Regions from separate parts of the Homo sapiens genome. Here region 2 is linked to region 1. The links come from fine-mapping of genetic effects on gene expression. A gene starts in region 1. The other region holds a variant in brackets. All regions are shown on one strand. Distances are between the middles of the regions. Region 1 holds the start of AKAP6 (A-kinase anchoring protein 6). Region 2 overlaps AKAP6 (A-kinase anchoring protein 6).

What was found. PIP is the estimated chance that this variant, and not a neighbour inherited with it, causes the effect.
Region 2: its variant is fine-mapped to the expression of AKAP6 in lung (TOPMed, PIP above 0.99).

The regions. Positions count from the first base shown.
Region 1 is chr14:32,321,116-32,337,692 of GRCh38, reverse strand. It overlaps AKAP6 (A-kinase anchoring protein 6), which reads right to left and starts at 8,395. Exons shown (of 14, transcript NM_004274.5): 1 at 8,285-8,395. RefSeq lists an enhancer at 6,136-6,430.
Region 2 is chr14:32,449,369-32,465,945 of GRCh38, reverse strand. All of the region lies in intron 2 of AKAP6 (A-kinase anchoring protein 6), which reads right to left. Among named protein-coding and RNA genes, the nearest start is that of AKAP6, 130 kb to the right of the region's middle. The variant C/T (reference allele first, on the strand shown) is at 8,251.

The DNA.
Region 1 (16,577 bases):
TAATGCTAAATGACGAGTTAATGGGTGCAGCACATCAACATGGCACATGTATACATATGTAACAAATCTGCATATTGTGCACATGTACCCTAAAACTTAAAGTATAATAATAATAAAATAAAATTTTTAAAAAAATCCTGTTATCAATTATTTATTACTAAATGAATATAAACCATAACATCTTAATTCACCAATCTGATTCTTTATTTGTTCTCAGAGGAATCATATCTTTTTGTGGTAGTTTTTATTGTTACCTTTGTTTTCAGATCTGTCCTTTTTTCTTGGAGAAGCTGCCCTTCTGAGGCAGGTGTTCCTCTACAGTGTTCTAGAAGCTGTGTGCTCCTACTAGCCAAGCCTGAAGAAATGTGCATCCTTCAGTTTCTTCTTGTGCTGCCCATCTTCTCATCACCACCCCCTTATTCTTATTTACTTTTAATTTAAAATGAAATGTACCAATAACCCTAAAGGACAAATTTTTTAAACTGTACTTGCACGCCTGTTTTCATTGTTGCATATAGTCTTCTACCACATCATATACCACCTCCCCTGCTGTTTCAGTTATTTCTAGTTGATTCTCCATATAGGCTGCCTGCAAGACTGACTAATAGGAGTTTTAAAAGGTCATTCCCTTTCAATTCACACAAAGACAAAAACAGATTAAATACAAGGAAGTATTTGAATTAACTATTAAAAGCTAAAAGCAAGCGGATTTCTTCCAAGGGACATATCAGAGAAACTGCAGTGTCATTTGGTTTTCCATGGGCTACTTTTATGCTAATGTAATAGGAATAAACAGTGGCAGGGAGATGAGGGCCTCAGGGGCTGCTGGTGGGGAGGACTGTAATGAGTTCAGAACAGTCCCAGAAGGTAACACTGATAAGAGACGAGGTGGAGTAGTAACAAACTATGAGCACTCAAGATGGAGAAAGCTGAGAAAGGGCTGAGAAACAAGAATTTTGAGTGGGCCAGCAAAAGTAATGAGTTATTAGACAAACACTTAAATCAAGAAATTGGATGAGAACAGAAGATGAGAGAGCCTCCACAGATATGCTTGGAGCTCCATGTCAAGGTATGTTCAGAAAAAAGGAAGAACTAATCATGACCATCTGTATGCACAGCCCAGCCAACACCATGTTAAATGTATGTCAAGTTCTCCAAGTAATATACATGTGTGTGTGCCTATAGTCATCGTTATTTGTAAAATGTTTGTTCTCTTAGCATATGATATTGTACATGGTAGACATCTGATGCATTTGTCAATTGTTGACTACTGGTGAAATTATCTGAAACAGATAGTTTTACAGCTTGTACAGTGATGGACATAGTGAGTATCAGAATTGTTCAGGGGTACAAGGTCTTGTATTCCTGGGGCTTGATCCTTGAAGAAGACTCTATTCTTAGGCTTCTAAGAGGTGGCAAGAGCCCTTTCTGGATTTGTCAGGTTCCTGTTTACTCACACAGTAAAAAAAAAAAACTTACCTTTTTCCTGTGCAGCAAGTGCCATCATTCATACCCATTTTCTAACAACTCTCTGCAAATCTGTAGATTAATAGATTAACACAGCCACTTCTCACTGTGACATGATGGGTGGGAATGTTTCACCCACCATAAGGTCCAGGAGTTGGTCACCAGCATCTCATTATTATAAACAGTAATGGCAGATATGGACTTCTGAACATTAGCATGGCTGGAACTACCTTGCTGGAGAAGGGTTCATTATAAATATTGACTATAATTCCCTTTTAAATTGAAAAAAAAAAATGAACTTTTCCTGTAGTAATATAACCTCGAATTATAGGCCCTCTGGCCTCCTGGAGAGAGAGAATTAAAAAAAAAAAAAAAAAAAAAAAGGAGAAAAGGATAGTATTAAAAAAAAAAATACCCAGACAGCATAAATATGTTGTGTAATTTAAATGAGAGTTAAACAAAGCAGGTGATAAAAGTAATCAAGTAGTAAACAAAGGGCAAGAGAATTAATATAAACATTGAACCAACAGGATGGTTAATTAGCTTGCTTTGCAAAGAAGATTTGATTTCTCCCCTGAAAGCAATGGTGGTGACAAATAAACCTCACCTACCAAATATCTTCAAGTATAATGTAATATATCCCCCATTGCCTATAAAAGAAATGCCACTGAGTTCCTTTGCATGCCACTGAATTACCATCTACAAGGGCCTTGCTCTGGGTTGTTTTGACAATGGTCCCTTAGTTTTTCTAAGCACTACAATTTCTATTTGAATTGTTCCAGAGTAGGAGGAAGTGGGGAGTCTGAAACTCAAACATCTACAGGGCTCAGGCAGTATCAGTGGGGGCACCAAAAGGGCCATATGGGACTGGCTACATAAGGTCCACTGTAAAATAAAAATGTGGAGCCTCTTATTAAAAAATTATTAAGAATTCCAAGATGGTTACAGCAGAGTATTAAACTAAGTGTGGGCCCTTCTCAGTGCAGGGCCCTATGCAACTACACAGGTTGCACACCCATAAAGCCTGCCCAGCAGCCATACAAAACAAGCTGCAGGCTAGGTTTAGCTCATGTATTAGCCAGTTTGAGACCCCATTCTAAAGGCTCTACTAGCCAGGTGGGGTGATGTGCACCTGCAGTCCTAACCACTTGGGAGGCTGAAGTGGGAGGATCGTTTGAGCCTAGAATTTCAAGGCTGCAGGGAGTAATGATTGCACTACTGCAATCTAGCCTGAACAACAGAGTAAAACCCTGTCTCCAAAAAAAAATCTGAAAATAAAATAAAGGTTCCACATTCTCTCCCTACTTACCCTTGTGACTCAAAGCACACCACTGCAAGATGGCTGGAAGAGTTTGGAGCATGCCCCATGGCTGAAGAACAGAGAAAAATATGGCTGGTGGCTTATGAGGAAAACAAAGTCTGTCCTTTATCTTCACCAAATCTTAAAGCCAACTCAGGAATTCAATTACTGACCGGTATGTGCTCGTGGAGAAGAAACTGTATGCCTTATTAATTCAAACTGCAATAGTCCCCCTCATTATCAGGGAATATGTTCCAAGACCCCCAGTGGATGCCTGAAACCATGGATAGCACCAAACCCTACATATACTATGTTTTTTCCTATACATATATACCTGTGATAAAGTTTAATTTATAGATTAGACACAATAAGAGATTAACAATAACTAATAATAAAACAGAACAATTGTAACAATATGCCAGCATCACTAATCTTGAGCTTTGGAGTCATTATTAAGTAAAATAAAGGTTATTTGAACATGGGCATTATGATAGCGAGATAGTTGATCTGAAAACCAAGACGGCTATTAAGTGACTTAACAAGCTGGTAGCATATACAGCATGGATATGCTGGACAAAGGAATGATACACATCCCAGGCAGGACAGAACAGTAATGGTGAGAGATTTCACTGCACTATGCAGAACAGCGCATAATTTAAAACTTATTGTTTATTTCTGCAATCTTCCATTGAATGTTTTCAGACCACGGATAACCATAACCACAAAAGGCTAAATCACAAATAAGGGCGCGGAAGGGGCTACTGTACCTAAAACTCTGTTGCCATGGCCAAAGTCCTATATGGATTGCTATTCCTCTGAAAAACCACACTCAGGGCCCATCTACAGAGTTCAGTCAATATGATTGTTTCGAGAAATGCTTCCCATTTAAAGCAATACTGTAAGGCACACTAGGGCGATTAGATGAGACTGAAGGTAACTGGTATACCTGTCCTTGTACAACTAAGTGTGTAGTTGGTACCTTGTATGATACATACCTCCATCAGCAGGCTGGCTGGAATGCTCAATTTAGAGGGCTCTCTGGACAATTTTTAAAGGTGATGAATATCTTTTATAAAAACAAAAATATCTCTCCTTAACTGATCTGCCACACACATTTCATATTTCCATATGTCAAGTTTGTCAACTGAGATAGACATGCACTATTTGACTGATTATAATTTTATTTCTCAAAATAGTTTATACCAAAAAAATACTAATTGCCATATTGGTCTTGTCCACATCCAGAAAGATTCTAATCCAAACCCATGCAAGAAAAAAAAAAGTTATTATTTAATGCAGTAAGTTTACCTCCACATATAAACCATATAGCTATATGTACCTATACAAATGTGCACAGATAATGGGCTTCTCTAATAACACATGGAATAAAAAGTAAATAGAAATAGTATTGCAGTATTAGAGGAAATAAATTATTTTACCAATTTACCCATTTTTCCCTTCCCCTCTAGAATGTAGCTGGGGAAGAGATTTGCATCTGTCTTGCTCATTGCTATAGATTCCCTGACAATGCCTGGCATATAGGAGATATTCAATAAATATTTATTGAATTGAATTGAATCCATGCGATCAAAACAAACTGCCATTCATGGGTTCTAGGATTATAAATAGAAGAAAATCAGAGACATGTAGCAAGACCACCAACTTCCCTAAATTCCACTGGCTATTTTATTTCCTAATTGGAACCTAACTCCTGTAGTCATTGTACCTAGCAGCTTTGATGCTTTCTGATCAGCCTCTCATTCCTGTACCTCATGCAGACACAAGCTTGGGCCTCTTTGGAGCAGGTTAGGACAAAGGTTAACTTCTTCCTGGAACCTAGAAAAGGCTAATGAGCCCTGTGGAATAATATTTCTAAGTATTCACCATACAGGAATCAATATCAACATGCTGTCAGTGTGTGCATTAGCCCCACACTCAAACAAAGAACAGCCCTTAGAGCCCAATAATGACGCTGGGCGTGGATAGCTGGGGATGAGCAAGATGATACAGAAATGACTATATCAGCTCTCCTCAAACACAAGGCTTCCAGGTTATTACACAAGACTGTCATTCTTGTACTTTGTCAGAGATAGACAGAGTTTGGTTTCAGCCACTGATACATTCAGCAAAATAAATCCTCTATCTTCTTAACCTAAGAGATAGATTCAGATTACACTTTCCAGACTGTGAGAGAAGTTTCTGCTTCTGTTCTCAACACCAGGTTGAGAACAGAACCTGGTGCAACAGCAGGGAATACAAACATCTTAAAGTTAACAAAGCACCACAAATATAGCTGATAAGACAGGTTTATAACAAAGCTGAATCATTACTGACTCAGGTAAGACCTGCTTTGAGTGCAACTCCATCATGCCCACAATTATTGATGTAACATTTTCCATACAGAGATCCTGCTAGAAAGTTATATCAAGCAAGGGCAGTGGCAAAAGTCTAAGCATCAACTCTTCATTACTTAAATCTCTGGGTACAAAGTAAATATTCACATCTGATCAAGATTCATGCTCATCCTTACAGTGAAATCAACCTTAGTGTTGCAAATGACATTTCATTCTACATATGAAATCTGATTTTCCAATTAGAATGAGGAGGGGTGGGGTACGTGTGATAGAGTATAGATGACTGATCTGTATGGTATATACAGTAAAGATGTCATAAAACTGAGATGGCCGTGGGTAAGCATGTGTGCTGCATAGCCAGATCGCAATGGTTTGGAATCCTGGCCCAATCACTTATTAACTACATAACCTTAGCCAAGTTTATTCGCCTGGCTAAGGACTGGTTTTTGCAAAATGTGAATAATAACACCTAATCCTATAAAGTGAGATTATTACTCTCTACTTCATAATAATAATAAGGGCTAAATAAGATATACACAAAACTTAATTCAGTACTGATACACAGTAAGAACTGAATAAATGATAGCTATGATTGTTATTATGATTATTATTTTTATCATCCCTATGCGGCCTAGTTATCGGCAAAGAATTAACTTCTTTGTAACTTTGTAATGTATTTGTGAAAGCCATGACCAAAAGTATAGAGGACATTAACTTCTTGTGAGGCTTCCATGGCCTAAACTCTGTCCAATAAACATGGTCTTGATGATCTATCATTACTGTGAAACAAAATTCCTTAAACTGTAGAAAGTTTCAGTGAGGCACCAATAAATACAGCCATAGAGAAATCTCTCCCTTCCCCTATACACACACACACACCATCTACCCCTTGGGGATATATTAAAACTAAGACAACTGAAATAGCCTTAGCCAGTAATTAAGACATGCAGCTAATCAGAGAGCAGCGCAGGCTGTGGCCCTCTACAAAGAAACGAAGAAACAAAACATTAGGATGATAGCTCTCATTACCAGGGCTTTGTTCTCCTGGAGCAAAAAGAGCACAAAAGCATAAAGTTGGAGAACTGTAATTGCATTTTGAACATTTGCGGGGGGAAAAATTACAGGGTTGTCTGAACCGGGAGGATGTTCCACTAGATAACTGCGTCAGTCCACACCCACCAGCGCCCTTCCCCACCCTCAAAGCATGACTCCACTTTTTCTAACACTGCCCTTAAGGAATCTAGCTTTTGTGACTTCCAGTAATTGAACAAATCAACCATGATGAAGCAGCTGAAGAGCACTTTAAACAAAAGAGACAAGAATTAAGCAAACAGAAAACTCATTACAATGCTGCCTTTTGCTTTTTTTTACTCCTAGAAATTCATGTTACCAAACAAGTCTTTCTTCATTGCTCTTCTTCAGAAATAATACTTTAAGAAAATTCTAAAAGGCACTAAGTGATTTTATCCAGATTTATAATCTAGCTACAAGACATACTTTCCCTTCCCCCATCACCATCTAGCACTCTTCCCTGTCACCTTAGAGCTTTCGACTTAGATGTGTTCACACCCAGCAGTCCCAGCAGAGCTTTCTGCTCACATTATATGACATAAAAAAGCAGGCAATGAACAATTCATGCTTCTAAGTGCTTGCGATAAAGCCAGGCTGAGCTGACCTCTCCCATCCTATACAGCTGCATGTCAGAAACATAAGCTTAAAGGACTGAGAGTAGCAAGCATGTGCGTGATGTGGTATAAACAAACAAATTAAAACCTGAGGCCTTTCCTCTGGCTGGTGCCTAATGGGACTAGCATACTTAACTCTGTGCAAAAAAAAAAAAAAAAAAAAAAAAAAAAAATCACTCCAAGCTAGCTAAAGGTATTGCTTTTCCTGCTTTCCATGATATATCTCTTTAGCCCCAATAAACAGACTAAAAGAAGAGGAATTCAATGGTTGCCATTCTTTCGTGTAAGACTTTTTGAGTAAAAACTATCAATTTGGCAGCATTAAGCCACAAGACCACTCCCTGATTCTAAGTGGACATATTGATCAATTGAACTGACATGTGCCTCCTCCTTTCTCTCCCCTAGTAGCAATCAGCTGTACCAGGGAAATCCATTTCATTTCCCAAAACAAAAGGCAACATTCTGCTCCTTATCTGACACTGTCAGACTAATTTTTTAGAAAATAATAATAATAATAAAGATGCCTAAAAACAGAGCTAGGAGTTGAAATGAAAATGATACGTGTTTAGAGTTTTGGAATTGAGTTGAGGTTATGACTGAGTCCAGAGGTCTGTAATCCCTACAACCACTGAGGACCCTGATATTTATTCATCATACCCAGATTTTTGTTAAAGTTAAGCAAGGGATGGCAACACCACTGCCACTTCAGAGGCTCTCCCAGGGTTACCCTTCACTGCAACTGCCGCAGAGAGGAGACTTGTTCCTTTCTCAGTTACAAGTCAGCCTGCAAACAACTCCAGCTATTTCAGAGACTAGCTAGAGATGGAAAAATATGTGGCAGTCTTTCAACTAACTCTGAAGGACATGGGTTGAAGAACTACCATATAGATCAAAAGGCTCAAATAATTTCATTTGGTTTAGGTTTTTATGCTTTTAATAAATTCTGTCTTGAATATGCAAGAGATCCCCTTTCACATCAGGGTTATGTCAAATGCTTATTCAGCATTTGTTCCTTGCCATGAAGAAACTGAAACCCAACCGAGGTAAATAATGAATTTCATACTGCAAATCACTGAATATTTCATAATTCACAAGAGCAAAGAGGGGGCCAATTAGCTCTGCCTCCCAAAAAGAAATCTATATTTTTACAATGCTTAAATACTGTTAACTACTCATTTTAAAGCTTATCTGGGGTTTTGCAATTGAAAAATCATCTTATGTTTATGAAAAATTCTGTAAGAACACTTAAAAATAACAGACAGAGCTGGAGCAAGAATAATTCTACATATTTTAATTCCTATATGACTCTTACAGGCCTTTGTCTTAACCCGGCAGCCTGAAAAACGATTTAGGTAAAACAGCCCTTCTTTCCCCAGTCCATTTTAAGCAGAGACAACATCCCCCAATCTCCGCCTTAGCAGACACCGACTAACCAACAAAACAGCCGTGCAATTAAGGCCCAGACATTTAACACTCACCATCTCCTGATCCCACCGTCTTCTTTTGATGTTTACAGCACATCTGTAGGATGCAATACTAGGAGATGCCTTGTTTGACCTGCTGCATGATGCTGTGACATCAGTTCAGATGATGCAGCTCATTATGGGAAAGACTGCTGTTGCTATGGCAACTGGGATGTGCTAGGAATCCTTGCTGCATTTCCAGTGGAGCCTGAGACAATACGGAAGCCCTGTAAGAAACAGACGATATGCAAAATTTAGACCAAAGGAAGAGGATTCCTCATTGGACTAAAATCCATAGGTTTAAAAGGGATTTCCCTGAAAGCATTTTGGAAAAAACAAAAATTATCTCCCCCTTTGTTGTTATACATTTAGAAAAAAAAGGTGGGAGGAGAAAATAGAATTAGTACTAAGCAAATAAAAACTGAAATGTACAATGTTTCCTTATTAGACAATTTGATCACTTTTTCCTCCCTGGTCAGCACTGGGATAGCTTTTTAAAAGTTATTAAAAAGAATTTTTGCTCATCTGTCAAAGACCAAAAGAACAAAACAGCGAGCACAAAAATAATTAAAAATGGAATATAAACAGCTGACCAAATGACTCTAACTCTCAAGTAAACAAGTTTTAATTCTCAAAACATGGGCAAACCCTTGGCCAATGAAGTCTGTCCTGGTTATTTTCCCTGATGAACACCAACCCACAGAACCTTCCCATGCAGAATAAACCCAGCTTTCACCTGGTCATCAGATAGGCAGCAAAGGGAAGTTTGGAATCTAGAGGGGCACAACACACCACCCTCAACTTCTACTGACCCTTCCTTTGGCCTGCAGGGAACCCCTCCTTCTCATGGCCAAAACGCATGTGAGTCTTTTCTGGGATCAAACCTAGTGGTTGGAACAAGTAGCAGACCTGCTAGAAACTTCCTAAATCGTTGGCATTCCAAACATTGGGGTCTGTTTTCTTCTTTTCTGAACAATAAAACTGCCTACCACACAGATTATTTGTGCCCCTCCCCAACCCCAAAAGCTGGAACTGTGTGAAAAGCCACATTTAAACAAGACACGGTAAGGCATTTCTCCAGTTGGTAAAAGAAAAGCAAATCTAAAGCAATCACTTCTTTCCAGTCCTGAGCAGAAATCAACGTCATGTGGTGAGAACTGGGGAGAAGGAGATATGGACAGAGCAGCCTATGTTTTGCATATTTAATATTTGCAGGCCATTGATAGAGAAAAGCAGAATCAAGTTGACCTGTATCCACTCCGTCTTCACAACTCTGAAAAAGAACAACATTCCAAAAGCTTAAAACATGAGACAATTATGTTGTCTCCTCCTGCTTGAGATTTTAAAATGGCACTGTTAACCACCAGCATAGGCGGTGTGGGATGAGTGGCAGAAGGAATTCAGGCAGTGTCTCTGTAAACAGGAGCTAATAAAATGCCTGAGAAGTGCCAATATCCCAGCAGCGTGCACCATCAGCCTCGCACAGAGCAACCCTGCCCTAGATGGGAAGACAGACTTGTTCTTGCTTCATCTAGAGAGGAATTAAGAGACCAAAAGCAGGAGGTGAATCTGCCTGCTTAGGTCCTTTGTGGCATCAGCAGAGCCTGACTCCCTCCCTTTATCTTAGACCTCAGACCACATGCCACACACAAGGGGAGAAGTAGCAGGCAGCTACCCCAGTACAAAGAGTACAGATCTGAGAGTCAGGAAACCCAACTGTAAATGTCAGGTCCTCCTAGAGCATCTGTGTGATATCAGGCCAATTGATTAACTTCTTGGGGCCTCAAGTTTTTCATCTGCAGAGATGATTGATTTAGCTAATAACCATAGTTTTCAGGTTTTTCATTAGTAATATAACCTTTCTTTTAATGATACAGATCAAAGCTGGACTGCCTTGGTTGAGGCAAGATAAGAAGCCCAGAGCCCAGACTGATGAGCCATTCTCAACCACTGCCTCCAACCTCATTTGCTGTAAGCTGACTCTTTAAGATACCTCTGAAGAACCCTTCAGTCTCTGGAGAAGATAAAGAGACATGGACCTATTACAGAACAAGATTAGTCTTTCCAGAGCTGAAATCCACATGCTATAAAGAGGAGAGGACAGGGTGGGAGCAGGTGTTCCAGATTTGAATATGGCTTCTCAAGATGGTAAGAATCTTGTTAATCTTTTTTGCCAGAAGCAAGTCAATCATTTGATGGGAAGAAATGGATGGCTCATCAAACCTGAGGCCAGGTCAAACTTTTAGCAACCTGGACTAGCTAAATTGCTTGCCCACAAAATGGCACTCACCAATGAAACGGAAGTAGAAGTGGAAACCATCAACTCCAAAGGTGGCTAAGACCAAGTGTCTCTTCTTCATGTTTTCCTGTCCTGCTAGCTGGATGCAAAGAATCCAGTGGAACTCTGAAGCCCAGAAAGATAATGGCCACACATTGTGGATGGAGCCTGGGTCCCTGAATGACTGCATGGAGCTCAACCATCCTCTCCCAACTACCTATTGACCTACACTGGGCTGCAATGAGTGAGAAACAAACACCACCAAGATTTTGGGGTAGTTTATTCTGAACAAATTATCCATTTATAGATAAAATTATAATTTAATAAAATATAAATTTTCTAACAAGATTATATTATATATCATTATTTATGATAAAGTGACAGTGTTAAAAACATGTTCCTTTATTGCAGACTTTCTTTTTTTATTTTATATTACTTTAAGTCCTGGGATACATGTGCAGAACATGCAGGTTTGTTACATAGGTATACATGTGCCATGGTGGTTTGCTGCACCTATCAACCCATCATCTAGGCTGTAAGCCCTGCATGAATTCGCTATTTGTCCTAATGCTCTCCCTCACCTTGCCCACAACCCCCCGAAGGGCCCTGGTGTATGGTGTTCCCCTCCCTGTGTCCATGTGGTCTCATTGTTCAAATCCCATTTATGAGTGATAACATGCAGTGTTTGATTTCCTGTTCCTGTGTTAGTCTGATGAGAATGATGGCTTCCAGCTTCATTCTTTTTTATGGCTGCATAGTATTCCATGGTGTACATGTGCAACATTTTCTTTATCCAGACTATCATCGATGGGCATTTGGGTTGGTTCCAAGTCTTTGCTATTGTAAATAGTGCTGCAATAAACATACATGTGCATGTGTCTTTATAGTAGAATGATTTATAATCCTTTGGGTATATACCCAGTAATGGGATTGCTAGGTCAAATACTATTTCTGGTTCTAGATCCTTGAGGAATCGCCACACTGTCTTCCACAATGGTTGAACTAATCTACACTCCCCAAAACAATGTAAAAGCGTTCCTATTTCTCCACAGGCTCTCCAGCATGTGTTGTTTCCTGACTTTTTAATAATTGCCATTCTAACTGGCGTGAGGTGGTATCTCATTGTGGTTTTGATTTGCACTTCTCTAATGACCAGTGATGATGAGCTTTTCTTTCATATGTTTTTTGGCCACATAAATGTCTTCTTTTGAGAAGTGTCTGTTCATATCCTTTGCCCACTTTTTGATGAGGTTGTTTTATTCTTGTAAATTTGTTTAAGTCCCTTATAGATTCTGGATATTAGACCTTTGTCAGATGGGTAGACTGCAAACATTTTCTCCCATTCTGTAGGTTGCCTGTTCACTCTGATGATAGTTTCTTTTGCTGTGCAGAAGCTCTTTAGTTTGATTAGATCCCATTTATCAATTTTGGCTTTCGTTGCAATTGCTTTTGGTGCTTTAATCAGTAAGTCTTTGCCCATGCCTGTGTCCTGAATGGTATTGCCTAGGTTTTCTTCTAGGGTTTTCATGGTTTTAAGTCTTTAATTCATCTTGAATTCATTTTTGTATAAGGTATAAGAAAGGGGTCCGGTTTCTGTTTTCTGCATGTAGCTAGCCAGTTTTCCCATCAGCATTTATTAAATAGGTTGCAGATTTTCTAAGAGTTTTCAATCTGCTAATATGCATTGAGACTCTCCTGTAGAAATATAGTATGCAGTATTTTCCTAATTTATATTTAATCACAGAATCCTTTTTTCATAGACTAATGTTCCATTGGGTGTCCATCTGCAACATAGTAAATATGACTGTAAACAGCAATGAGCTAGAACACCACTAAACCTCCAATTCAGCCTGCGGCTGCAGAAGAAGGAAAAAATAAAACTTCTCTCACCTTCAGCACAACTCAGTCTGCCTCCAATCTTTCTCTGCCATCCTGAACTGACAAGACAGAAATCTGGTAGTATCATTTGCAGACAGCAACATTTATAGAAATGTTTCCTCCTGGTCATTTTTTTCCTATTTGTAAGTAGGCATTGGCTATAGTTTGAGTGTTCCCTCCAAAATTCATGGGTTTGGTTTTCTGGGTTTGGTTTTGTTTGTTTGTTTGTTTATTTGTTTGTTTAAGAGGAGGCATCTCAATATGCTGCCCAGACTGGATTCAAACTCCTGAGCTCAATGAATCCTCCTGCCTCAGCTTCCCAAGTAGCTGGAACTATAGGCTCATGTTGAAACTTAATTGCCCTTGTGATGATACTTAAGAGGTGGAGCCATCGTGAATAGACTAATACCACTATCATAGGAGTAATTTAGTGACTGCAGGAGTTCAGCCCCCTTTTTCCATCTCTGCATTCTCACCCTCTCACCATGTGATCTCTTCCACAATGTTATGATTCAGCAAGAAGGTCATCACCAGATGCAACCCCTTGATCTTGGACTTCCAGCCTCCAGAACAAATAAACTTCTTTGTATATAGATTACTCAGTGTTAGATATTGTTATAGCAGCAAAATATGAACAAAGACAAAGTTGTATTCCAAATTCTTATTATTTCAAAAGCAAATTAGTATTATTTCCAAATCATTAACTCATGATGTAAACATACATCTTGTGTTTGCATGCTAGGGTTTTAAAAAATCTTAAAGCCATTTCTGAAAATGCAGCAGGCCTGCATCTCTTGGTATACAATGAGAAAATTTGTAGATCTGAGGAATGTGTCTGTTAGTTAAGGAAGTACTAATGGATTTCACAGCTAAGCTGCTAAATTACTCTGGCTAAATATAGTTGTGTATGTCTTATTCATTTGAACTCTAACTGAATATTCCTGACTGCAGATGACCTTCTATGTGGTTATTCAAGACCTCTCTCTTGAGGTTTCACCTTCCTCTAATGCCTTACATTCCTGGGCATAAGTTGACCAATTGAGGAAAGATGGGAGATGGTATAGGGGAGGTTTTCATGGGCTAGGTCTGGAAGTACCCTTCTTCACTTCCACCCCACATTCCACTGGTTAGAACTTGGTCAAATGGCCATACCTATTGCAAGATAAGCTGGAAAATAGAATTTAGCTTTGTGCCATGAGAGAAAAGGAAACAGCTAAAATGCATAGTTATCCAGTTCTGCCACATCATGAGATCAGGAATATGATCCTTGCTTCAGGCTGCATTTTACCTATGTGTCTGCAATACCTTCACTGAGTCTTCTGAAGCTCAACTGAACGTTCAGGTGTATAAGACTATCACAGTCAACATTTGGCACCAGCCTACTCAGAGAGTTTGCCAACAGAGCAGCATCAGGCATTCCTCTTCTCTGGAGTCTTGTGGTAATCCATGGAACAATCTATACAGTGTCCAAAGCTATTCTATCTGGCCCCCTGGTGACAGTTTAAGAACTCAGGTAAGAACACATTAGGCAAGTTCAAGAGTGCCCGGCCTTGAAAACCTCATTCCTCACAGGAACCAATATCTTTGTAACAACTTCATAGGCATAACTTCCAGATCCCTCCAAGAGACACACCTGGTTACAAGAGTCATTGCACTCAGAGAAGCCCAAAACTACAGCTTCTTCTTAGAATTTATAGTTATCTCAAACTAGCTACTAAGGAGGGCTTACTCCTCATCTCCCATTTCAGATGTAGCCAGGGAATATAATGAATGGAACAGGGCTATGACAGAGTAAACAAACAGCCCGTCTTGGAGAGCAGAGTCAGGGCCAGACCAGGTAAATTCCCCTTCTCCAAGGCAGTCATTTTCACTAACCAAGGGTCATTTTTACCCTAACCAATGTTACCCAATAACATGGTTGACATTTTACTGTTTTCAAGGGAACAGAGTTACAGAGTTAACCAAACGTCAAAATCTTATGCAGAAGGAGAAAGGGTTTAGTGAATCCTCTACCAATAGCGCCCAATTTTGGCTTTAAAAAAGACCTTCATTCACAAAATAGAAAAGTATTCAAACACTCTAACCACATGCCTATATGATCATAAGCCCATGCTGACTGTGGATGCTGCTTCAACCCATACACTTTCTATGTTTTCTGAGAGTATTTGGAGGCCAAAAATATTTGGACATCAGATATTTAGGCACAGTGCATTTGTGTGGCTGCTATTGTTATTGAATGCTCATCATCCCTCTGCTTTATGTAGGTAGCCATGTAAAGAAGAAATTATTACCTGATGATTATCAATCATTGGCAATCAGAACAGAACTTGCAGCAGCAATAATGGTATACAAATTCAGTTATTTTGTTACCTAATTTTTGCATTTATTATTTCCTCTTAGATATCACCTTTTCTACACTCAAACTTACATGCTTTGGGTGGGAATCTAACGAAAGGAATGGAGTATGTGACCCAATCAATCTTAAGCTAATCAGTTTATTACTATTCCCATGACCCACGGAAATTAGTTCAGAGGTGTACATGGGATACCATTGAAGCCACTGAGAAGCAATGAAACATTTTACTGAAAATCACTATTGGCTCCTGATTTTGAATAGGAAAGGATGTCAAGTCTAAAGTTGCTCATCCATTTTGTATTCATGAATGAAGAACCTGTCTAAGAATAAAGCCAACACAAGGAGAAGAGCAGAGCTGAGTTGAGAGAAAGGAACACTTTCCTCTCACCACTTATGCCAGAAATCAGCCTTACTCTGGTTCTGTTGGTTATGAGTCCAAAAGTCCCTGTTTCTGCTTAAGGCAATGTATGGCTTGGAGGTTCAGTCACAGTAAACAGAGGCCTAACTGATTCACAAAGTCATCTGAGAAATTGTGTAATGTATAAGTAGGCACCAGTAGCATGCAGCTTCCTAGGAAGGGAAAAGAAAAGCTATTAGGTCCCAGAGGGGTTCACAGCCTCAGAGCTGAGACCCTTCAAAGGGTTAGGTTCAGGGCCAGAACTGGTAAGACCTACTCACAAGGTAGATGCAAGATATTATCCTCCCTTACTCCTGAACATTCCCAAATTTATGATAGTGACCACCATCTCAATGAGCTTGAGTTCCATTCCTCTCCTTTCCCAGGCAAAATTTCCATTGGCAAAGACGAAAACCTCAACAAGCCCAGGGAGGGTAGATCAGATCTTGAATGAACATTAGATTTGGAATCTGAAATAGACCTTGGGGTGATTTTGCCCATAGAAACTTGCCCTAACCAGTTCAGAGATTTCTCTGACGTCCTTCTGAATTCAAGATTTTCTCTTGTCTGACTTTATGGAACTTTATAGTGTTTTTATTTGTTTTTGTTTTTGTTTTTGTTTTGCTGTTTTGAGACAGGATCTCACTCTGTTGCCTAGGCTGGAGTGCAGTGGTGCAATCACACTTCACTGCAGCCTCAACCTCCCAGGCTCAGGTGATCCTCTCACCTCAGCTTCCTGAGTAGCTGGGACTATAGATATGCCAGCATGCCCAGCTAATTTTTGTGTTTTTTTGGAGAACAGGGTTTCACCATGTTGCCCAGGCTGGTCTTGAACTCTTGGGCTTAAGCAGTCTGCCTACCTCAGCCTCCCAAAGTGCTGGGATTACAGGCATGAGCCACCACACCTGGCCGACCAGTGTTTTGCTGTTTCATTTTGAATTTAACTACAAACACAAACATTTGACATGGAACCTACTGGCTTTAATGTGTTAATGGAAGCACAATTGTGCTGCTAATTTATACAGGCAAAGGAAAACACTGAGGACGAACATATTAGACAGGAGTTTACAAGCTTTTTGAACTGGGGCTTTCCTGTTTTAGCATTCGATGTTTTCATAGGTCTTAATCTTGCCTCCTCAAGTACACAGCTCTTTATGGTACTGCTATTTTGGTCACACTCCTAGGCATAAGCAATTTCTTAATAAGTCCTTCTTAATTCTTAATTATTTGAGAAAAATAGCATTATTTCTATTCCAGGCAATGATAAGCTTCCTGCAAGCTTTCTCTTTATCACCCCAGTGTTTGAAACGTTGTAAGATTCTACTAAGGTTTATATGTGTAAATCTTTATCCCTTCCTTTACTGCCTAAAATACCAAAATATAATTTGCTACTGAAAAG
Region 2 (16,577 bases), 130 kb before region 1:
TCTTCTTTTGAGAAGTGTCTGTTCATATCCTTCTCCCACATTTTGATGAGGTTGTTTTTTTCTTGTAAATTTGTTTAAGTTCCCTGTAGATTCTGGATATCAACCCTTTGTCAGATGGATAGATTGCAAAAATTTTCTCCCATTCTTAGGTCGCCTGTTCATGCTGATGATAATTTCTTTTGCGTGCAGAAGCTCTTTAGTTTGATTAGATCCCATTTGTCAATTTTGGCTTTTGTTGCAATTGCTTTTTGTGTTTTAGTCATGAAGTCTTTGCCCAAGCCTATGTTCTGAATGCCTAGGTTTTCTTCTAGGGTTTTTATGGTTTTAGGTCTTACATTTATATCTTAATCCATCTTGAGTTAATTTTTGTATGAGGTGTAAGGAAGGGGTCCAGTGTCAGGTTTCTACATATGGCTAGCCAGTTTTCCCAACATTATTTATTAAATAGGGAATCCTTGCCCCATTGCTTGTTTTTGTCAGGTTTGTCGAAGATCAGTTGGTTGTAGATGTGTGGTGTTATTTCTGAGGTCTCTGTTCTGTTCCATTGGTCTATATATCTGTTTTGGTACCAGTACCACGCTGTTTTGGTTACTGTACCCTTGTAGTATAGTTTGAAGTCAGGTAGCATCATGCCTACAGCTTTGTTCTTTTTGCTTGGAATTGTCTTGGCTGTGCGGGCTCTTTTTTGGTTCCCTATGAAATTTAAAGTAGTTTTTTCTAATTCTGCAAAGAAAGACATGGTAGCTTGATGGGAATAGCACTGAATATTTAAATTACTTTGGGCAGTATGGCCATTTTCATGATATTGATTCTTCCTATCCGTGAGCATGGAAAGTTTTTCCATTTGTTTGTGTCCTATCTTGTTTCCTTGAGCAGTGGTTTGTAGTTCTCCTTGAAGAGGTCCTTCGCATCCCTTGTAAGTTTTATTTCTTGGTATTTTATTCTCTTTGTAGCAGTTGTGAATGGGAGTTCACTCGTGATTTGACTGTTTGTCTATTGTTGATGTATAGGAATGCTTGTGATTTTGCACATTGATTTTGTATCCTGAGTCTGCTGAAGTTACTTAACAGCTTAAGGAGTTTCTGCGCTGAGACAATGGGGTTTTCTAAATATACAATCATGTCATTTGCAAATAGAGACAATTTGACTTCCTCATTTCCTAATTGAATACCCTTTATTTCTTTCTCTTGCCTGATTGCCCTGACCAGAACTTCCAGTGCTATGTTGAATAGGAGTGGTGAGAAAGGGCATCCTTGTCTTGTGCCGGTTTTCAAATGGGATGTTTCCAGCTTTTGCCCATTCAGTATGATGTTGGTTACGGGTTTGTCATAAATAGCTCTTATTATTTTGAGATATGTTCCATCAATACCTAGTTTATTGAGAGTTTTTAGCATGAAGGGATGTTGAATTTTATCAAAGGCCTTTTCTGCATCTATTGAGATAATCATGTGGTTTTTGTCATTGGATCTGTTTATGTGATGGATTACATTTATTGATTTGCATATGTTGAACAAGCCTTGCATCCCAGGGATGAAGCCAACTTGATTGTGGTGGATAAGCTTTTTGATGTGCTACTGGATTCAGTTTGCCAGTATTTTTATTGAGGATTTTCACGTCAATGTTCATCAGGGTTATTGGCCTGAAATTCTCTTTTTTTGTTGTGTCCCTGCCAGGCTTTGGTATCAGGATGATGCTGGCCTCATAAAATGAGTTAGCGAGGATTCCCTCTTTTTCTATTGTTTGGAATAGTTTCAGAAGGAATGATACCAGCTCCTCTTTGTACTGCTGGTAGAATTCGGCTGTGTATCCATCTGGTCCTGGGCTTTTTTTGGTTGGTAGGCTATTAATTACTGTCTCAATTTCAGAACTTGTTATTGGTCTATTCAGGGATTTGACTTCTTCCTCGTTTAGTCTTGAGAGGATGAATGTGTACAGGAATTTATCCATTTCTTCTAGATCTTCTAGTTCATTTGTGTTGAGGTGTTTATAGTATTCTCTGATGGTAGTTTGTATTTCTGTGGGATCAGTGGTTATATCCCCTTTATCATTTTTTATTGTGTCTATTTGATTCTTCTCTGTTTCCTTCTTTATTAGTCTTGCTAGCAGTCTATGTATTTTGTTAATGTTTTCAAAAAACCAGCTCCTGGGTTCATCGATTTTTTGAAGGGTTTTTGTGTCTCTATCTCCTTCAGTTCTGCTCTGATTTAGTTATTTCTTGTCTTCTTCTAGGTTTGGAATTTGTTCTTGCTTCTCTAGTTCTTTTATTGTGATGTTAGGGTGTTGATTTTAGATCTTTCCTGCCTTATCCTGTGGGCATTTAGTGCTATAAATTTCCCTCTAAACACTGCTTTAGATGTGGCCCAGAGATTCTGGTACACTGTCTCTTTGTTCTCATTGGTTTCAAAGAACTTATTTATTTCTGCCTTAATTTCACTCTTTACCCCGTAAACATTCAGGAGCAGGTTGTTCAGTTTCGACGTAGTTGTGCAGTTTTGAGTGAGATTCTTAATCCTGAGCTCTAATTTGATTTCACTGTGGTCTGAGAGACTGTTTGTTATGATTTCCATTATTTTGCATTTGGTGAGGAGTGTTTTACTTCCAGTTATGCGGTTGATTTTAGAATAAGTGCTATGTGGCACTGAGAAGAATGTATATTCTGTTGATTTGGGGTGGAGAGTTCTGTGGATGTCTGTTAGGTCTGCTTAGTCCAGAGCTGAGTTCAAGCCCTGAATATCCTTATTAATTTTCTGTCTTGGTGATCATTTAATATCGACAGTGAGGTGTTAAACTCTCCCACTATTACTGTGTGGGAGTCTAAGTCTCTTTGTCAGTCTCTAAAAACTTGTTTTATAAATCTGGGTGCTGCTGTATTGGGTGCATATATGTTTAGCATAGTTACCTCTTCTTCTTGCATTGATCCCTTTACCATTATGTAATGCCTTTCTTTGTCTTTTTTTTTTTTTTTAATCTTTGTTGGCTTAAAGACTGTTTTATCAGAGATTAGGATTGCAACCCCGGGTTTTTTTTTTTTTTTTTTTTTTTTTGCTTTCCATTTGCTTGGTAAATATTCCTCCATACCTTTATTTTGAGCCTATGTGTGTTTTTGCACGTGAGATGGGTCTCTTGAATGCAGCACACCAATAGGTCTTGGCTCTATCCAATTGGTTAGTCTGTGTCTTTTAATTGGGGCATTTAGCCCATTTACATTTAAGGTAAATATTGTTATGTGTGAATTTGATCCTGTCATCATGACGCTAGCTGGTTATTTTGCATATTAGTTGATGCAGTTTCTTCGTAGTGTAATTGGTCTTTATATTTTGGTGTGTTTTTGCAGTGGCTGGTACTGGTTTTTCCTTTCCATATTCAGTGCTTCCTTGAGGAGCTCTTATAAGGCAGGCCTTGTGGTGACAAAATCCCTCCACATTTGCTGTCTATAAAGAATTTTATTTCTCCTTTGCTTATGAAGCTTAATTTGGCTGGGTGTGAAATTCTAGGTTGAAAATTTTCTTTATGAATGTTGAATATTGGCCCCCACTCTCTTCTGGCTCACAGGGTTTCTGCAGAGGGATCTGCTGTTAGTCTGATGAGCTTCCCTTTGTAGGTAACCTGACCTTTCTCTCTGGCTACCCTTAATATTTTTTCCTTCATTACAACCTTGGAAAATCTGACGATTATGTGTCTTGGGGTTGCTCTTCTCAAGGAGTATCTTAGTGGTATTCTCTGTATTTCCTGAATTTGAATGTGGGCCTGTCTTGCTAGGGTGGGGAAGCTCTCCTGGATAATATCCTGAAGTGTGTTTTCCAACTTGGTTCCATTCTCCCTGCCACTTTCAGGTACACCAATCAATCATAGGTTTGGTCTTTTCACATAGTCCCATATTTCTTGAAGGCTTTGTTCATTCCTTTTCATTCTTTTTCCTCTAATCTTGTCTTCACACCTTATTCAGTAAGTTGATCTTCAATCTCTGATATCCTTTCTTCTGCTTGATTGATTTGGCTATTGATACTTGTGTATGCTTCACGAAGTTCTCATGCTGTGTTTTCAGCTCCATCAAGTCATTTATGTTCCTCTCTAAAGTAGTTATTCTAGTTAGCAGTTTATATAACCTCTATTCAAGGTTCTTAGCTTCCTTGCATTGCATTATAACATCCTCCTTTAGCTCAGAGGAGTTCATTATTACCCACCTTCTGAAGCCTACTTCTGTCAATTTGTCAATCTCATTCTCCATTTAGTTTTGTGCCCTTGCTCAAGAGGAGTTGCAATCATTTGGAGGAGAAGAGGCATTCTGGTTTTTGGAATTTTCAGGGTTTTTGCACTGGTTTTTCCTGATCTCTGTGGATTTATCTACCTTTGATCTTTGAGGCTGATGGCCTTTAGATGGAGTTTTTGTGTGGGGGTCCTTTATGTTGATGTTGATGTTGTTGTTGCTTTCTGTTTGTTAGTTTTTCTTCTAACAGCCAGGCTCCTCTTCTGCAGGTCTGCTACAGTTTGCTAGAGGTCCACTCCAGACCCTGTGTACCTGTGTATCACAGTGGAGACTGCAGAACAGCAAAGATTGCTGCCTGCTCCTTCCTCTGGAAGCTTCGTCCCAGAGGGGCACTGGCCTGATGTTAGCCCGAGCTCTCCTGAATGAGGTGTCTTTGACCCCTGTTGGGAGGTGTCTCCCCATCAGGAGGCACGGGGGTCAGGGACCAACATGAGGAGGCAGTCTGTCCCTTAGCAGAGATGGTGGGCTGTGCTGGGAGAATCCCTCTTGTCAGGATCAGCTGCTCATTTCAGAGAACAGGCAGGAACAACTAAACCTGCTGAAGCAGCAACCACAGCTGCCCCTTCCCCCAGGTGCTCTGTCCCAGGGACATGGAGGTTTTGTCTGTAAGCCCGTGACTGGGGCTGTTACCTTCAGAGATGCCCTGCCCAGTGAGGAGGAATTTAGAGAAAAGGTCTGGCCACAGCTACTTTGCTGCACTGTGGTGAGTTCCGCCCAGTCCAGACCTCCCAGCCTCCTTAGCACTGTCAGGGGAAAACTGCCTACTAAAGCCTCAGTAATGGTGGATGCCCCTCCCCACACTAAGCTTGGTAGTCCCAGACTGACCTCAGACTGCTGTGCTGGCAGCAAGAATTTCAAGCCAGTGGTTCTTAGCTTGCTGGGCTCCATGGGAGTGGGGCCCGCTGAGCAAGACCACTTGGCTCCTTGGCTTCAACCCCCTTTCCAGGGGAGTGAGCTGTTCTGTCTCTCAGGCATTCCAGGCACCCATGGGGTATGAAAAAAACTCCTGCAGCTAGCTTGGTGTCTGCCCAAACAGCTGCCCAGTTTTGTGCTTGAAACCCAGGGCCCTGGTGATGTGGGCACTCGAGGGAATCTCCTGATCTGCAGATTACAAACACCGTGGGAAAAGCATAGTAACTGGACAGGTAGCACAGTCCCTCAAGGCTTCTCTTGGCTGGGGGAGGGAGGTCCCCACATCTCCTTGCACTTCCCGGGTGAAGCAACGCCCCACCCTGCTTCTGCTCACCCTCTGTGGGTTGGACCCACTACCTAACCAGCCCCAGTGAGATCAAATGGGTAACTCAGTTGGAAATGGAGAAATCACCTGCTTTCTGTTGCTATTCAGCCATCTTGGCCAGTTAATATATCTCTTATATCTCTTTTAATCTGTACCTTTCCTCTCTCTCTGTCTCCCTCTCTATCCTGGAAATTTTGTTGAAGAAACAGGGTTGTTTGTCCTGTAGAGTTTCACACAGCCTGGGGTTTGCTGATTGCAGCCCCATGATATTATTTATCTAATTCACTAATTCACATTCCCCTCTCTCTCTGTCCAATTCTCCTGGAAATTGACAGTTAGATCTAAAGGCTTGATTATATTAAGTTGTATTTTTCCTTTCTTTTTTGGCAAGACTAATTTATTGATGGTGTTGTATGGTTTTGTCAAGAGTTGTATGGTTGTCTTTATTTTTATGTTTTTTGAGCAGCCAATCACTGCCAGCAGTCCTTACATGGATATTTCTCCCATCATTCTGATTACCTAACATATATTCTCCAGGAGATTCCGCAGTAACTATTTATGGGAAAAATATGTCCTTATTTCTTGCAAGTTTGTCTGTGGCCTTTATACCTGAAGTTCTATGTGGCTAAACCCTTAGCTCCCATTTTCCATCCCTGAGTATCCTAAATACGTTACTCCACTGTCTTCTGAAAAAAAAAAATCAGTTGACAAATTTCGGTGACAATTTGATATTCTTTTTTCTTATTAATGACTTGGCTGTTAAGACTGGATGACCACTGAATTTTTTCTTCTTTTTTTTTTTTTCCTTTTTGTAATCCAGTGATTTTTACTTTTCTAGGTAGATTTTTTTTCTTATATGTATGCCTTTCCAATAAGAAATTTTAAATCATTTAAATCTTATTTCAGGGAAGTGAAGATGTTAATATTGGTTCTATTCCACTGTTTTTGTTTTCTTTCTTTGAGATTTCTATTATGTATGTGTTGAATACTCTTAGCAATCTGTCTGTATCTATCACTTTTTCTCAAAACCTTATCCCTTTATTATTTATTTTTTTACTGAATTGTAGTAAACATACAATAGAGTTCATCATTTATAAGTATAGTTTGGCAAATATTCATAAACAGCTGTATGACCAAACTCTAGAACATTTTCATTGCCCCAAAAAGTTATCTCATGCCCCTTTGCAGTCAATTGCCTCCCCCTTACCCACATATACATAATTCAATCTCTAGCAACCACTGATCTGTATTTTGTTCCTATGTTTTGCCATCTTTTAGAATGTCATCTAATTGAACTCCACAGCACATAGTCTTTCTTATATCCGACTTATTTCATGTAGCATAATGCTTTTGAGATTAATATTGTTGTATGTATAAGTAGTTCAATTATTTTTATTGCCAAGTAGTGTTCCTTTATTAATAACATTTTCTCTATCTTTTCACCAATCGATGGATATCTGGGTTGTTTCTAGTTTGGGGCTATTACGAATGTCTTTCCTCCCACCCATACTTTGTTTTTCTTAAACTAATATCTGTTGCATTATTTTGTCCTTGCATTCCTTCCTTCTAGCATAGTCTTCATTCCTGAAATTCTTTTTTCCTTTTATTTCTAATTCTTTCCTGACTTTACCTCTCTGTTAAAATCTTCCTTCTCTTCAATTATCATATTTCTGAGTTTTTAAAATTCTGATTCATGTTTTTATTTCATAGCTTCTATCATTTTCTCAATTGTTTTTGGCTCAGTTGGAAATATTAGGTATCATTTTCATTTATTTTGTGGGCATTTATTTCTGGCATGCTTTTATTGTCTGCAAAGATGTTATTCTGCTCCTTAACCTCTTTTGTAAAAAATAATAACTTTGTATGGTAATCAACTCTTTATGTTGTTCATTTTCTTCATTCCTATTGTGACTACTAATAATACTTTCAGCGACATTTACAATTACAAATAATATAGGAAAACTTCCTAAGAATATATAAAACTAAGTATAGCATCAGCAACATATATAATTATACAGCTTCTGTCATCTGCAAAAATTAGGTAACATCATTACCACTCATGAATTTTTTGAAGTCAGTATTTATCCTTACTTTACTGAAGAAAAAAACAACATACCAGAAGTTAAAAGCTTCTTCAAGTTTATAGGGAGACAACATTACAACTCTCAGCTCATAGTTATTGGAGCATATATTAAAGATGTACATAATTAGAAAAATGATCATTATCTTAATCTAAAAAATTGTTTTTTCTAAGTAGACTTTACTTTGGGCACCCTTCTTAAAAATGAAAGCAAATTTGAAATAATTATGATGCTAATGCAGTTCTAGGGTGGTAAAAGAATTTCCATCCTAAACAAATTAACTTTCTTTTATATACTTATATGTATTTGCCAAGGCTTTTCACTCACACTAACTTGCTATCAAGTAGGCAGATAGAATAAGATATGACTTTGGTCATTGGAAAATAACTGTACCATAGAATGTCTGATGTAATCCCAAAATGTCAGAGTAAATAATTGTGAGTTACTGAAATGACCAAGTCAGCTTTGCAAAATTAGGAGAAGGAGGTCTCAGGCAAGTGAATGGAAATGTTTAAATTTTTTACTTTGGCATGATATGGGTCCCAATTATATAACTAAAGTTTATAACATCTCTATCTAAACAGAGATGAAAATGCCAATGGAACAATTCAGAAATTTCATGTTTATGACGTAGATGAAAAGCATGTGGTCTGGAGACCAGGCAC[C/T]GTCTGTGTAGCTTCACCAGGCGCCTGAACTCTATCAGGATGTCAGCGCCAGCAGCACACAGGGAGGAATTTCCAGCGTGGTCATCATTCTGTTTGGTTTTGCTCTCTCATCTAGTACTGTGTTGAAGTTCTAAAGTTGACCCTTTAATTAACAAGAAGGTTAAGATTTTTTTTTAGTTCAGCCTCCCCTAGCACATTACTGGGTATGATGGGAGAGGGAATACTCTCACCATATTTGTTATATTAAGAACTCTCAGTTACCCAAGGCAAGTTTCTAATTCTGAGTTACCTCTATTCCACACCAGGGCCATTTGAAGCCAAACAGTGAAGAAGATGTAATAGGGTTCAGAATCCTCAAGACCTTACCTGATACTGCTAAAAATGTCCATTGCCAAGGGAGCTTCAGCCTTTCCCCCTTTCCCACTTGATCAATATCTACCTTTTCTATATTGGATTTCCTCAGGCCCTACTCAGTAGATACCACTCAGTAGTAGTCCAGCCTTGTCTTCACCAAGAAACGTCTATTGTGCCTGTTCAACAAATTAAATTTATTCAGAAATGATTTGTTTTTTTCCATTTAATCAGTGACACATTTAACTGCTGCTCAGAGTTCCCTGACTAATATGATATAAGAGATGCTAGCTACCTTGTGGATTTGATATAATTTCAGACAGAGGGCAATAAAAAAAGTCTGTCTATGAAGTTACATCTTGGCTAAATTTATAATTTCCATCCCATATTTTGAAGTTTTAAAAGTATTTTGAAGACTACCATTTATTTCAACATCATAAGTTGAAGATCATTGATTTTTTCATATAAATTATTTCTCCTAATGCATGTAATTCCCTCCTCTTGGGTAAGTTAGTATCTTCCTTTGATTAAAAATGCATAAAATTATTAGCACAAAAGAAACAGCACGTCCATTAAGAGTTATATTTGGGGTCCTTGGACAAGATCCTCTTCTCTGACTCTGGTCACGACCAGTCCTACCTGCCAACCACAGATACATGATAATTTAAGGTACCTATTTTGAGACAGATATTTTGACCCAGCCATTTGACAAACCATTATCGAATGATAACATGTACTTGATTGACTTAGATTACACATCCACAAAAATTTCAATTTGATAGCATAATTCACTTTAAAAGACTTGTCATCAGCTAAATATTTTTGTTATTTGATAATAAAACAAAAAATTTTGCATGTTTACTTCTGAAAACAGTTGTATTTGGTGATTTGTTTAAATAGTATTATAGCTTTGTGCTTGTATTTTGGTTTTTGTAAAAAGATTTTGATCTCTTTGGTTTTTTTGAAGTCAAAATTAAACTATATTTCTGTGGCCTAAAGACAATATTTCTATTTTTTCTTCATTTTGAAAGATTTGACAAATTAAGTAAGATGGCACTAATGACATTGAAAGTAGTATAAGACTGCTCAGCATTAAAATTAAACCATGGTGAATGTTGCTTTTCATATAAGACACCGTGAAAACATTTAGGCCAATTTCCATGGATCCCATCGGTATTAGCACTATTACTGTTTCTGCTTTATAATCAACTATACTCATGTATTTATTAAGTCTAGCCATTTCTAAATTTTTGAAATGCATATATATCTGTCCTTTACTACATATGCTCCTCTACCACCGAAAAAAAACAGAAACAAATAAAATCTTCAGCTCTTAAAAAAATCACCAGGTTAAGATTACAATAAAATCCCTTCTTCTAATCAAAGCAGCCACTCCAGAATGTCCTTCTTTGGTGAATCACCTTTACCCCCAACCCATTTATCTAGGCAGATGCATAGTCAGTAAATTCAGTCATTTGTTTAGGATTTATACTTCAGTACTTCCAAAGTAGGTTGGGGGCAGGTTACAAGTGTTATATAATTTTAAAATAGGACAGAACTGATAAAAACAGATCAGAGTAGATCTAAAGAAAATAAAGAGGACAGAGATTACAAGGTTTACCATATTGTTCCCCTAGCAACAACATCACAAAAGAAAATTTTAAAGTGAACCAATTTTGCTTCAAAAGAGGAGAGGGCAAGCAAATTTATTTTCAAATTAATTTTCAAGGAAGAATCTCAGGATTTTGAGTAAATTATGCTTGATGACAATTTGGCAAATACACTGAGACAGTATTCCAATGGATAATTCTCACATCCAAATCATCACACTATCTAATTGCTGCATGTTCAAGAAAAATAGACAACCCAATTTTTAAATGAATAAAAGAAAGAAAACAATTTAACATAAAGAAGCACTTACATTGGGGAAAATAATCTTACTCATTTCAAATCTAAAATTATATGCCTATTTATATATAGCAAAAGAGAAATCTGAAATTTAAAAAGCAAAACTCTTTAAAGACCTAAATATGTGTATTATCTGCATATTTTCATATCACATACAAATCAAGTTTTTGGCCAGGCATGGTGGCTCACACTTGTAATCCCAGCACTTTGGGAGGCCAAGGTGGAAGGATTGCTTGAGACCAGCCTGGGCAACATAGTGAGGCCCATCTCTAAAAAAAAAAATTGTTTTTTAATTGAAACAAAAATAGCTGGGTGTGGTGGCCCACACCTGTAGTCCCAGCTACTCAGGAGGCTGAGGTGGGAGGATAGCTTGAGCCCAGGAGGTTGAAGCTGCAATGAGCCATGGTCATGCTACCACATTCTGGTCTGGGTGAAAAAGCAAGACCCAGAATGAAAGGAAGAAAGGGAGAAAGGGAGAAACAGAGGAAGAGAGGAAGAGAGAAAGCAGGGAAGGAGAGAAGGAGGGAAGGAGAGAAGGAGGGAAGGAGGGAGGGAAGGAGGGAGGGAGGGAGGGAGGGAGGGAAGGAGGGAGGGAGGGAAGGAGAGAAGGAGGGAAGGAGGGAGGGAGGGAGGGAGGGAGGGAAGGAGGGAGGGAGGGAAGGAGGGAAGGAGGGAGGGAGGGAGGGAAGGAGGGAGGGAGGGAAGGAGGGAAGGAGAGAAGGAGGGAAGGAGGGAGGGAGGGAGGGAGGGAAGGAGGGAAGGAGGGAAGGAGGGAAGGAGAGAGGGAAGGAGGGAGGGAGGGAAGGAAGGAAGGAAGGTCAAGTTTTCACTGTAATTTATCTTCCTGCTGGTCTGCTCCAGCATTAGTCCTTGCCTCATGTGACCTCATTTTCTACTGTTTCATAGTTGAAAACATTAGCAAGTGCAAGACCAACTACTGCTTTGCATGTAAAGCCTTGTGGCACGGGAGTCAGGCATGGCCACATGAGAAGCTGAGCTCTGCCCAGAAACCTTGCGAGCCTTGCTATAGAAGGACAAGCATTCTCATCGGTTGTGTTCTAGCACATGACTCGCTGAAGGGGGTGTTCCCTTTCTAAATATAAAAGCTCTGCTGCTTCATACAAGACCTAGATGCAAAGAAATAAAAGGGCCATCAATCTCAATTTCTCTTAGTTATTTATTGCTAGCTTCTATCAGATATATTTTTTAAAATGCCAGTGAAAAGAGAGATCCTGAGGAAGGTACCTGGGGATAGATTCAGGGAATGGACTTTGAGACATGTTCAGACAGTTCTGAGAGGACTTGGCCATCTGGTTTGTTTTGCAGGCTGACTGAAATCTCCTGCATAACTTGAGGCCATCCGTACTCATGGTTTCTTCATGTAAAGTCATAAAATGAAATGAACTAAAGTTCAGAGATGAGCCAAAGACAGACAGACTCTGAGAGCTTTACCAAATAATTCACTTCTAAGGAATGCTGTCTAACTTGGATGCCATTCATGAGAAAAAGATTTTATTTCTAATTTGGCTTAAAGAGTCAGTTTGAAAAATTCGGCCGGGCGCAGTGGCTCACGCCTGTAATCCCAGCACTTTGGGAGGCCGAGGCGGGCGGATCATGAGGTCAGGAGATCGAGACCACGGTGAAACCCCGTCTCTACTAAAAATACAAAAAAATTAGCCGGGCGCAGTGGCGGGCGCCTGTAGTCCCAGCTACTCGGGAGGCTGAGGCAGGAGAATGGCGTGAACCCGGGAGGCGGAGCTTGCAGTGAGCGGAGATCGCGCCACTGCACTCCCGCCTGGGCGACAGAACGAGACTCCGTCTCAAAAAAAAAAAAAAAAAAAAAAAAAAAAAAAAAAAAAAAGAAAAGAAAAATTCTATTATCTCCACAGGAATTTCAAGTGGCTAATAAGAATTTAGTAGCCTGACTTTCAAATAGCCCAGTAAGCCTATACAGGCATTGATTTTAAGAATACACTTCTAGATAACTAATAGTTATCAAACTAGATTACAACACTGGCTTAATTTTCATCTGAGGGATAGAGAAAAAATCCCGCCACCTCGTGACTATATCATTAGAGCTGTGGGATATAGAGGAAAGGACGCTGGATAGAGGGTCAGAGGGCTGAGGTCTAACCTAGATTCTGCCACATGTCAGCAGTTTGAACATGAGAATTCAACTTCTCGGGGCCTCTGCTTTCTCATCTGTAGAATGAGGAGTGGAGCTGGATGATATGTTACCCAATTCTCAGATTAAAACAAAAATTATCCCACTTCTCTAAATGTCCTTGAATGGAAAATCCTACATTCATATTGGTGTGCTTATGTCTACAATAATAAATTATGTTTCTGAAGCTAGGATTCTCTTTCCCATGAGGAAGTCTTTAAAGCTCATGTTACCACCATTCCTTATTTTGAGTGTTAAACTAAGATCACAGAGGATTCAGGGTCTCTGACTTTCATCCTTCCAACAACGGATGGCTTCATAGTATGAATACTATACGTGACAGTAGCACTTTCATTTTTTAAAAGTATTTACATGTATTATTTAATTTGTATCTCACAGCTACCTAGTAAGGTAAATGGTAGATACTATTATTCCTATTTTGAACAGAAAAATTAAATGAGACTTAGAGAATTTCAGTCACTTGCCCCAGTACATAAGAATATTCACAATCAACCAAGGAATTGTTTATTAATATGGTCTCTGGAGCACAGTTCAACAACATGTACTAAAATGTAAAACATGCATAGCCTTTGACCAAGCAATTCCTTTTCCTTCTTTTTTTTTCTGTAGAAACAGGGTCTCCCTATTTTGCCCAGGCTGGTCACAAACTCCTGGCCTCAAGCAATTCTCCCTCACCAGCCTCCCCAAGTGCTGGAATTACAGGTATAAGCCTCTGTGCCCAGTCTGACTAAGCAATTCCAATTTTAAATATTTTAGACAAGTATACAAAGATGTATTCTCAAAGAAAATAATCACCACACTTTTTATAATAGGGAAAAAACAGAAGCAACCTATATATCCATGAATAGGAGACTAGGAAAATATATTAAAACACAGCCAGGCAGTGGATTAATATGCAGCGTTAAAAATTATAGCATAGGCTGGGCATGGTGGCCCACACCTGTAATCCCAGCACTTTAGGAGGCCAAGGTCGGCAGATTGCTTGAGCTCAGGAGTTTGAGACCAGCCTGGGCAACAAGGCAAAAGCCCATCTCTACAAAACATATAGAAAAATTAGCCAAGCATGGTGACCTGGGTGTGGTGGTGCATGCTTGTAGTCCCAGCTAGGAAGCTGAGGTGGGAGGATTGCTGGAGCCCCAGAGGTGAAGGCTGCAGTGAGCCGTGATTGCACCACTGGACTCCAGCCTGGGCAACAGAGCAATACCATGTCTCAAAAAAAAAAAAAAAAAAAAAAAAAAAATGTAAAGAAAAGAAAAAGAAAAAGAAAAATGATAGCATAGAGTTATAGTTGGTAAAGTAGAAATATGGCCACAACTTACCTTTGATTTGGAGAAAAGGGGTGGAGGAAGTAGGGTTAAGACATCAATCAGCACTATCCAATAGAATTCTATACAATTTGGAAATCTTTGCTGTCCAGTACAGTTGCCACTAACTACTATTAAAAGGTGGCTAGTGTGACTAAGAAATTGCATTTTTTTCAGTTTTATTTCATTATAATTTATTTAAATTTAAATAGCCACATGTAACTAGTGGCTACCATATTGGGCAATGCAGTCAACATAGATATTTTATGTGTTATTTTATAATAAAAAATATTAAATGTTTTGTTTAAACAACAACAAAAACAACCAACTTGTGTCTAGGAGACAACTAGAAGATACAGAAATAAATTAGTCAACGACAGCTTTATCTAAAAAGCTGCAATGCCTGCAATATTAGGCCCAAGTGCACATTTTATACACATAGTTTCTGTACTTTGGCATAACTATGCTAATTTGGCAAGTTTCCTAGATACTAGTCCACATACTAGGAAATAAATAGCTGTATACAAATAAAGCTATATCTTTTGTGCAAACTCTGCAGAACAGGCCAGAAAGAAAAATAAATGGAAGGAAGCAGAAAATGGGAACTGGAACATTGAAAGTAGGATCAGGTTTTTTAAAAAAGGATAATAAATTATTCAACTCACTAAGTGAATATGTAGTAATTAGGAAGCTCATGTTTTCTTCTTATGAGTTTTGATTATATCAAAATTACTGAAGCAACAAAATATCTTATTTTCTTGTATACCAGCCAGTATAAAATTTAGTCTTGATGAATCATGCAAACTAGCTAAAGGCTAATCTGACTTTCAGACCTGCACAAAGTAGGAGACATGTTTGTTTGTTCATAAGTATTTCCAAATTCCAATCCACTTGCAAATATAAAGCAATAGAGTAAACTAATTTTTTCCACTACCAGATATTAGATAGATAAAACATAATAATAAAGCCACTTTCCTCGTTTTGTTATTTTCAACATTTTACTATTATAAATGATATAGTAAACATATTCACATAGAAGGGATTTTTTCTATATTGGGATTTAAAGAAGCTTTCTTAAAGACCAAATTGGCCCAAATTGTAGCATTCTTAACAGTAAAACTATAACTAACCAAGGCCCTCAATTAATTCGATTCCTCCCTCCTTCTACTTTTTAGAAGGAAAAAAAGAAACCTCAAGAAAAGATATTGAAGCAAGGAGCAAACTTGCAGTATAAATCTCTTAATACATCCAAATCTGTTACTCTTACGTGAAAATGATATTATAACTGATGACTTCAAAAACTTCAGTATCATTAATCCTGAGAAAGCTTTAGGTATGTTCAGTACTATGCACTTGATTTTTGAAAGAGAAAGTATACTAATACACAATAAAAATATAGTACAATGGAGAGTCAAACTTATTTTTATCTCATTGTGTTAACTAAAAATTTCAAACAAAATATGCCCTGCCCCTTGCAGGCCTTGTTAAGTGAGGCTATATTTCCTATATTTCATTGTGTTTTAATGACCAAAACCAAATTATAGAAGAGTGTATTTTGATTGGTAGCATATATAAGTTGCCACAAATCAATCCCTCTCCCTCTCCCTCTCTCTCTCTCTCTCTCACACACACACACATCCCAGCTCACCCTACCACAGTCACAAAATCAGCAAGCAGTATTTGGATTGGGATAGAATCATAATCAGAACTACTAACATTTCATGTAGCATCAGAAATTTCAAAATTCTTCTAAAGAATGATCTTGATTTTTACAACAATCTTCAGAGGTGAATATTTACAGCTAAGGAAATTCAGGTTCATAGAAATTACTAAATTGCCTGGTGTCCAACTTCTAGTAAGTAGCAGAAACAGGAGCAGAACTAGGCCTGCCATCTCCAAATCCTGGGGGCTTTCCACTCTGCCTCACTCCTGGAACCAGCCAGCAGGCAAGAAGGAGGCACGAGGGTAGGCATGACAACTGACTATCACTAATTTGAAGAACTCCCATTCCAGCCATTAAAAGCTGGCTGACACTAAAGAGGCATCAAGCTTTTATTGCTCTCAGTGTGCTTCTGAAATCTCTGAGGCAGTTTGAACTAAATTAACCACTATCAAGAAAAGGGGCCAGGACATCTCAATATGCCCTATAAATTCTGGAAGACAGCCCCAATCTAGTTTCAAGAATACCTTCCACTATTTTAGCAGTTACTACCTACTTGCTTGGAATCTAATTTGTTCTACTTAAATTAGATTATCAGTCCTCAGGCCATATGACTCAAAGTAAAAACTGGCAGTTGATTGGCAGGGCCTCTTTCTGAAGCATTTCCCTTCCCTCTTTATGGGACCAGAGCTGTCTTCTCCATCAAAAAATCTTTTCTAAGAAAGTATTTATTCTTTTCCTTTTTCTTTTTTTTTTTTTTTTTTTTGAGATGGAGTCTAGCTCCATTGCCCAGGCTGGAGTGCAGTGGCACTATCTTGGCTCACTGCAACCTCTGCCTCCTGGGTTCAAGCGATTCTCCTGCCTCAGCCTCCTGAGTGGCTGGGATTAGAGGCGTGCACCTCCATGCCTGCCTAATTTT